Linked DNA regions of Homo sapiens. The protein of the gene in region 1 purifies or fractionates together with the protein of each later gene. This does not show direct contact. Each region holds a gene or a part of one and is shown on either strand. Other genes may lie near its edges.

What was found.
Region 2: the proteins of CCDC83 (region 1) and CCDC50 purify together in Homo sapiens (affinity purification with mass spectrometry; one large-scale study listed by BioGRID and IntAct). This does not show direct contact.

What each region holds. Positions count from the first base shown.
Region 1 is NC_000011.10:85,882,735-85,886,558, forward strand, and holds part of CCDC83 (coiled-coil domain-containing protein 83), read left to right. Parts: intron 1-3,465; coding exon 3,466-3,633; intron 3,634-3,824.
Region 2 is NC_000003.12:191,356,575-191,360,398, reverse strand, and holds part of CCDC50 (coiled-coil domain-containing protein 50 long isoform), read right to left. Parts: intron 3,312-3,824; coding exon 3,249-3,311; intron 2,402-3,248; coding exon 2,275-2,401; intron 1-2,274.

The DNA.
Region 1 (3,824 bases):
TAATGCTTTATTCTTCCAATATGTTCAAAATGCTGTTAAGTGTATTTTAAACGGCATCATTACCACCGCAGCCACAAACACATGTAGGTAAATGGGCAGGAGAGGGAAATAATAAAGTGGGTAGAGGTAATGAAGCCAAGCAAGGAGGTGGAAGAAGGGTAGTGATCAGAAACAGATGAAATTTATCTGACTGTTTTTTTTGGGATAGGGTGTAGTTCAGTCACCCAGGCTGGAGTGCAGTGGTGCGATCTCAGCTTACTGCAATCTTAACCTCCTGGGCTCATGCAGTCCTCCCACCTCAGCCTCCCAAGTAGCTGGGACTCCAGGTGCACACCACTATGCCTGAGAATTTTGTTCCTTTTTTGTAGAGATGAGGTCTTGCTATGTTGCCCAGGCTGGTCTCGAACTCCTGGGCTCAAGGGATAGTCCCACCTCAGTCTCCCAAAGTTCTGGGATTACAGGCGTGAGCCACCATGCCCAGCCTCATCTGACTCTTACAACAGGACAGTATCTTGTTAAACACCATTACTCATAGTAGGGTTTTGTTCTTTTTCTTTTTTTTCTTTTTTTTTTTAATTCTGTTGTTTGGTGGTTTCATTGACTTCAGCTTCAGCTTAGATTTGGGAATGATAAGGCAAATAAAACCATGAAAAATGTTTCTCCCAATATCTCTAAGGGAGCCAAGCACCCCATTAGATGGAGGAAATAGGGATTAGCGTTGGGAAAGGGGAAGTTTGGAGAACATGGGTAGTAATGACACTAGGTGCAGGCAATGAAAGACCCAGGGCATACTCTTGCTGTAGGCTTAGGAAATACCATGGTACTGAGGGTAAATCATGCAGTTCTGACATACACATTTTGAAATTCCTATTCTTTCATTCTAAACTTGCTGCTAAGATTTCTAGGACCACTTTTGCCAAAACCTCCATAAATAACATCCCTGCTAGGAAGCTGGAAAACATGAGAAAGAGACCTAAGTGCTATCATTTGTTAGCCCTTAGGAAATCCACGTATTTCTGGATTTCTCCAAGTGCCTACTTAGCTGAGCACTTTGCACACAGCAGGCTCTCCACTCAATAGATATTTGCTGTTTTGAGTGAAATCGTTTCCAAGACCAAACATCAATAGGCAAGTTTCATTTTTAGGGGAGTCCAAAACTGTTCCCATAGACCTCCTCCTACCCAAGTCTCTTCATTGGCAATAGGGATGTCATGACATGGTAGATAGTATATTTTGCATGACTTCTTTCCAAAAGAGTTCTGCTTATATTTGGAAGGAATACTTTAGTAAGTCCCTTGAGATGGAGTGAGACCCCAAAGGATGCTCAGCTGTGCTCGCTAAACTGCCTTCTAAAGGAATGGGCCCAGTTAGTTGAGATGCGCCTGTTGATGGTTTGGGCTGAGCATGGGGATGTGTCATACAAGACTGGGCCACACGGCATGACTGAGCACAATAGAGGAGGACTGGACATGCATGGGAAGAAAGGAAGCTCACAGACATGGAGGAAGAGAGGGAAAGTAAGAGAACAGAAGTGTCTGGAAAACATTTCCGAGGTAGTCACTTTATGTCCCAGGTAGTCCCTTGCAACTCATTTTGGTGTGGAGCAGCAGCAAGTGCTTCACCTATCAGCTTGTTACAATGCCAATTCCCAGGCCCCACCCAGACCTACTGAATCAGAATCCGCATTCTGACAAGATCCCAGGGGATTCCTATGCACAGTAAGGTTTGAGAAATACTGCTGCAACCCTTTTCATCCAACTTTTAGTAAGGACTCTTTCAGTTGCAAGGATAAAAAATCCAAGTCAAACTAGCCTAAGCATAAAGGGGATGTTAGTCTTTTCACATCACTTAACACAGAAAGACAGAGTGCTTCTGACCTGGATACAAGGCTTCACATGCTGTCAGATCTCAGCTTAAACAAACAAACAAAAATCTCTGGGGCGTATGTGTTACTAGAAGGGAAGGGAAGAAGTTCTAAGAAAGTAGAAAAACAGCCACTACATCCATCTCCCTTTTACAATCTTCAGTGACATCTACCAACCCTCCCCTCAAAGGCCAAATGGGGCACTGGCCTGAGACAGTAGCAGTCTGCTCGAATGAGAGAACAACTACCCATCTGGCTTATAGTAGTACTGATAATTGTTTAATGAAAATAACCACCATTTGTTAAGAGATTTTAAATATAGTATCTTGTGGCCAGGCATGGTGACTCATACCTGTAATCCTAGCACTTTGGGATGCCAAGGCGGGCAGATTGCCTGAGGTCAGGAGTTCGAGACCAGCCTGGCCAACATAGTGAATGAAACCCTGTCTCTACTAAAAATACAAAATTAGCCGGACGTGGTGGTGGGTGCCTGTGATCTCAGCTACTTGGGAGACTGAGGCAGGAGAATCACTTGAACCTGGGAGGTGGAGGTTGCAGTGAGCCGAGATCGCGCCACTGCTCTCCAGTCTGAGTGACAGAGCAAAACTCCATCTCAAAAAAAAAAAATTAGTATCTTGTGTACATCTTTGGAAAAAGATGAGTCCTGAGTCCTTCTGGACCTCTGGACTGAAGAATATCACCCTGGCCTGATTGAAATGCTTCAGTCATTCAACAGACATTTATTGAGCGCCAACTAATTGCCAGGCTCTGTGCTAAGTGCTGGATTTACAGAGATGAATATAATGTAGTCTTTCCTTCAAAGAACTCTCAAACAAGGTGATATATGGTGATGAGATAAACAGCCATTAAGTTTGTTGTACTTGACTCTTTTGTAATGCTTCTTTTTCAAAAATATTCAGCAACATGATATTCGGCCTAAAGATTGAATAGAATATCATGTTTAGCAAACAAAGTTTATATCCCTGAAATAGTTCAGTATTTGTACACATTTAACTGGGGAACTTGCCCATCACTCTGGTTTTACCAAAGGGGGGTGGGAAAAGACATGTTATTATGACTATCAGAGGCTATCATTTCATACAAGAGAAATCCAAATAAATGAACTTTAGATGACTGAATCAAACAATTTACTTACAAAAATGGTTGCCAAGGACCTGGGAAGGACACAAGTTGAAATCACTTTTGCTCAGAGGGTATAATGGCCAGAAAAATGACAATTTCCTAATAAAGAATACATATTATACATATTATATGATACACTGTACAAAATAGGACCCTTATCAGGAATGATGTAAACTTGCAGCTTCCTAGGCATATGGGTTGTCTATTACGTCTTTCAATCAACCCTCAAACCACACATCTACTTTGTAGTCAGAAGTTTAATTTTGCTTAGATTTTGAATCAGGGGAGATAGATAAACAACAGTTTGAATAGTTTAGAATTTCCTAAATTTTAGATATAAAATAGTATTTATGAGTTAACAGTATTTTAATATCAGATCTTAACTTCTTAAAACCAGATTGCAACATATAATGGTTACAAGGAAAACAGAAATGACACAGTGTCTTTATTTTCAACAGATATGCGCATGCAAATAAGTAATGCTGAGAAACTATTTCTTGAGAAACTCAGTGAAAAGGAATATTGGGAGGAGTACAAGAATGTAGGGAGTGAACGACATGCTAAACTCATTACCTCCTTACAAAATGACATCAACACAGTTAAAGAGAATGCAGAGAAAATGTCAGGTCAGTTGCAACAAAACTAGTTCAAGTTCAGTAAAAAACATCTTTAGTAGGGCATACATTGATGGAAGAAAAAAGTGCATACTCCCTGAATCATTCATTACTCTGCTGTCAGCACAAGCAGCTGTGAGCCTAAGGGTAAAGGTGGAGGGAGGAAGCAGAAAAATGATCCCAGGACCACCTGTGAAACTGAG
Region 2 (3,824 bases), on another chromosome or scaffold:
GGGAAGAAAGTAGAAGCACCGTAGAGAAGGCAAACCCAAATGAAGTGTTAAAGGTCACAAGTGACACAGAAGATGTATCTCCTGGTACAGAAAATAAATAAGTGAAGCTTCATCTGAGTTTAATGATTTCAAACCATATTTCCAAGAAGTACCATCTCTGGTTCAGTCAGCTAATTATACAGACTCCTGGGAAAGCGAAACTGAGAAAGCAGTAGTAAACAAGCGGTAATCCTGACTTACGGCAGCCCGGGTATCCAGACTGAATAAAAGGTTCCAGTTCAATGAAAACTGCAGCATTTCATCCTTCCCAAGATGTACAGCTATTAAAATTGCCAGGGAGTGAACTGAAAGACTTCCCTTCTAGCTTACTTATTTCATCCAGGAACAATTTCAAAACCTTGAAGTCTCAGGCAGAAATATAATACCCGGTTCTTCTCTCCTTTAGGACCTATAAAATATCACTCTCTACTCCTGATTTATATTTGAGTGGTTTGTCTTGATAATTTCTGAAAAAGCTCATTATACTGTTATTAACCTAATTCAGGATTTTAAACATCTGCATCAACCTCAGAACTGGCCTTTCTAACAGAGAATTGTGAATAATGTAAAGGGCAATGAATTTAGAACTCTAGAACATTCTAGCTTTGGTTCTCACCTTAACCTGTGACACTGAGCCTCATAACATCTCAAATATCTCTCCTCCTCTTTACATCTCCATTACCATGACCTTCAATTTAGGCCTCATCATCTCCTTCCTCTCTGTCACCACTGTCCTCATTCAAGCCTCACCATCTCTTAATTTGACCATTGCTCAACAGCTGCCTTCAAATCTTGCCCACTCCAAGCCTTTACCCACCTAGTCTACAGAATAGATCCCAAAATGAAAATCTGAAACTACTTCAAAGGTTCTCCATTCCTTATAATTTAAAATCTACAAAACCTGAAATCTTTAACATAACTTATCGTGACCCTTTTGATCCAGCTTTTGACTACTTTCCTGGCCTCACTTCCTACTTCTGCCTGTAAATACACTCTCCACTCCAGCAACACTGAACTTCTTGCAGCTAACGTGAGATTGATTCCAAGTCCTCTTACCTCCTGCCCTTATGCATGCTGCTCCTTCTGGCTAGAATGGTTTTCCCCATCACTATAAACTTCTAATTAACCTTCAAGTTTCAGATTAAACACATCGTCTTGTGAAGCTTTTCCCAGTCTCTTCTCTCTAAATAGGCCTGAAATTTACATTTCAATTCTCTGTGACTCATGCACGTATCTCTAGATACACAATGCTCAAGGTGTTTTCCTGAGGCCCTTAAAGGCAACAGCTGTCTTATTCATATCTCTGGTCTCCTTTCATGGTGCCAGATTTAGCATGAATCAATAAAAGTGTTTATTTACAAAATAAGGGAAGCTTAACAAAATGATTAATAAAGTCCTCTCTACAAATAATAAACAGAAAGACAAACCCTTCCTATAAGTTAGCAAAAATGACTGGCTTTCCTTTTTACCTGAATATGACACTGAAGTAAATTAAGGGGTTCCTTCCATTTTTCCTTTACCCCTTCCTCCTCAACACAGTATCTGTGGTTAAATCTACCCACATTAAAGATTTAGGATGTAAGAGCCACTCTCAAAGAAGAAATGTATCCTGGGAGCTTTATAACACTGAAACAGAATAAAAGTCACTGTGCCAAAAGAAACCTGAGAAATAATCATTTCCGTTTATCTGTGTGTTAAAGGAGGCTACTAGAGAGAACTTTTGTCAGACACTGAAGTTATGAAAAAAACTGAGTCTACACTTCAGAGCTTTTCAGAACATTCTGCTATGTACTGAAAAGCAAGGAAAGTAAGAGCGGCAAACACAGCTAGAACATAGTAAAGGAACCAATACAACCCATAAAGTTATTTGATGTCCACTATTTCACTGGATCCCCCAAAGAAACTATGAGGCAGAGGGGACAGAGATTATTATCCGCATGTTATGGGTAAGGAAAATAAATTCAGAGAAGTTGACTAACTGGCCCAAGGTCATAACAGCTAAAAAATGTTAAAATTCACACCATCATCAACATGTCCTTAAACCTGGTCAAGTGCTCCAACAAAAACAAAACATTTTCAAATCAAAAAAACTGTTAGACATCCAGGGTAAGATTTGTAATCTAACAGTAGAAGGAATCAGAGGAACAGAAGTAGTCTCCTTCTCCCCTGCCCTGGTTGCTAGCTCCACAGAGAAAACCAGTCTTGCATCACCCCTCCCACCTCCCAAATCCTCACAGGTCTTTGTAGCGCTTCTGGAGCTGGGCCTGCGCTTTCAGATCTTCCTCTTGGAGCTGCTTAGCCACCTGGAGATCATGCTGGACCAAACGGTTCCGCTGAACGTTCGATGCCAAATGATGCTCAACTGGAACAAAAAGATTGAGGACAGGAATGAATAATGTCTTGGTTTGTTAGTAATAAATGCCATAATAATCTTAAGAGCTTTACCATAACAACAGCTTTGCATCCATCACTTCATTTTATTGTCTCAACAACAATATATAATAAAGAGCAAGGAATTATTATCCCCACTTTTCCATTAAGTAAAAAGAGGATCAAAAAGATTAAATAATTTGCCTTTGGTCACACGGCAACAAAGTGGCAGTGCCAGGACATCTACACAAATATTCTAAAGCCAGGGCCAATGCTCTTTCTACTACTACATGTTGTCACTCTATTTATTAACCGCATTTTTCAAAATGTCAATTTTATATTGATATGTGAATTCACAAATCATATATTCACAAGTATGTACTTTAATATAACATGCATAGCTTAGATTTACTTTTCATCACCACATGGAAAAAAAGATTCAGAAAAATTCACAATGTGATCTCATTTATACCACAGTTGCCTGGGAAAACTGTTCAAGTCCCTATCCTAGGAGCAAGAATAGATTCCTTCTACGCACCCCAGATAAATCTACAACCATTGTGTCCCTCCTACAACAAGAGGCTAGGAAAAAGGTTCAAACCTCTCTTTTTCCTCCTACAGACGCAGCAGTCTACTAATTCCTGGCAGCCTATCTTACTTAACATGCCCGAAACTTCACTGATCACCCAGGCATCATTTGCCTAAAGAAATCCTTCAGGATGTATGGATGGTGAAGCCAAGTGACTGTGCTCTCTCCCCACCTAAGCCCTAAGAAACCAGCCTCAAGCTACCACTAAAAAAAGAAAACTGAAGGAGCATAAATGAGAGGTATTACTCACTCTCTTGTTCCTGCAGGCTGTGAGCCAGGGTGTGGTCCTCCAGGACAGCAAAATCTCGGCATACTAGAGTAGATGGAGGAAAAACAGACAGGAAGGCTCATTAGTAATACTTTAACATACAAAGGAAAGGATTTTTTTTTTTTACTTTAAAAAAAATCAATTCTAATATTTCAGAATGACACACTTTATAATTCTCAATGCATAAAATAGTGACTAGTTAAGTATGCAGTCTTTAGTCACAAAAATCTATAGTGCCTGCTTAGTGCCAAGCACAGGGTGTCACAAAATACTGGTTAGCCTTGGCCCCTGGCCTGAGGTGAGAACATTTACAGAATCAGATTCCAGAGGTCTAGAAATTCCAATCCACTTCTATAAATGGAGGGTTAAGTGCTGCTGAAATAACAGACGTATCAGTCATGCTTTGCATATTGCTACTGAGAGAGAACTGAGTTACTGCATAATTAGAGGTGTTAAAAGAAATCTAATCTATGCTTCCCTGTGGTTCAGACGATCCTCTCCCAGCAATTTATGTCTACCCTGGCGTCTTTCAAGAAAAAATATATTTTCACTAGTCCC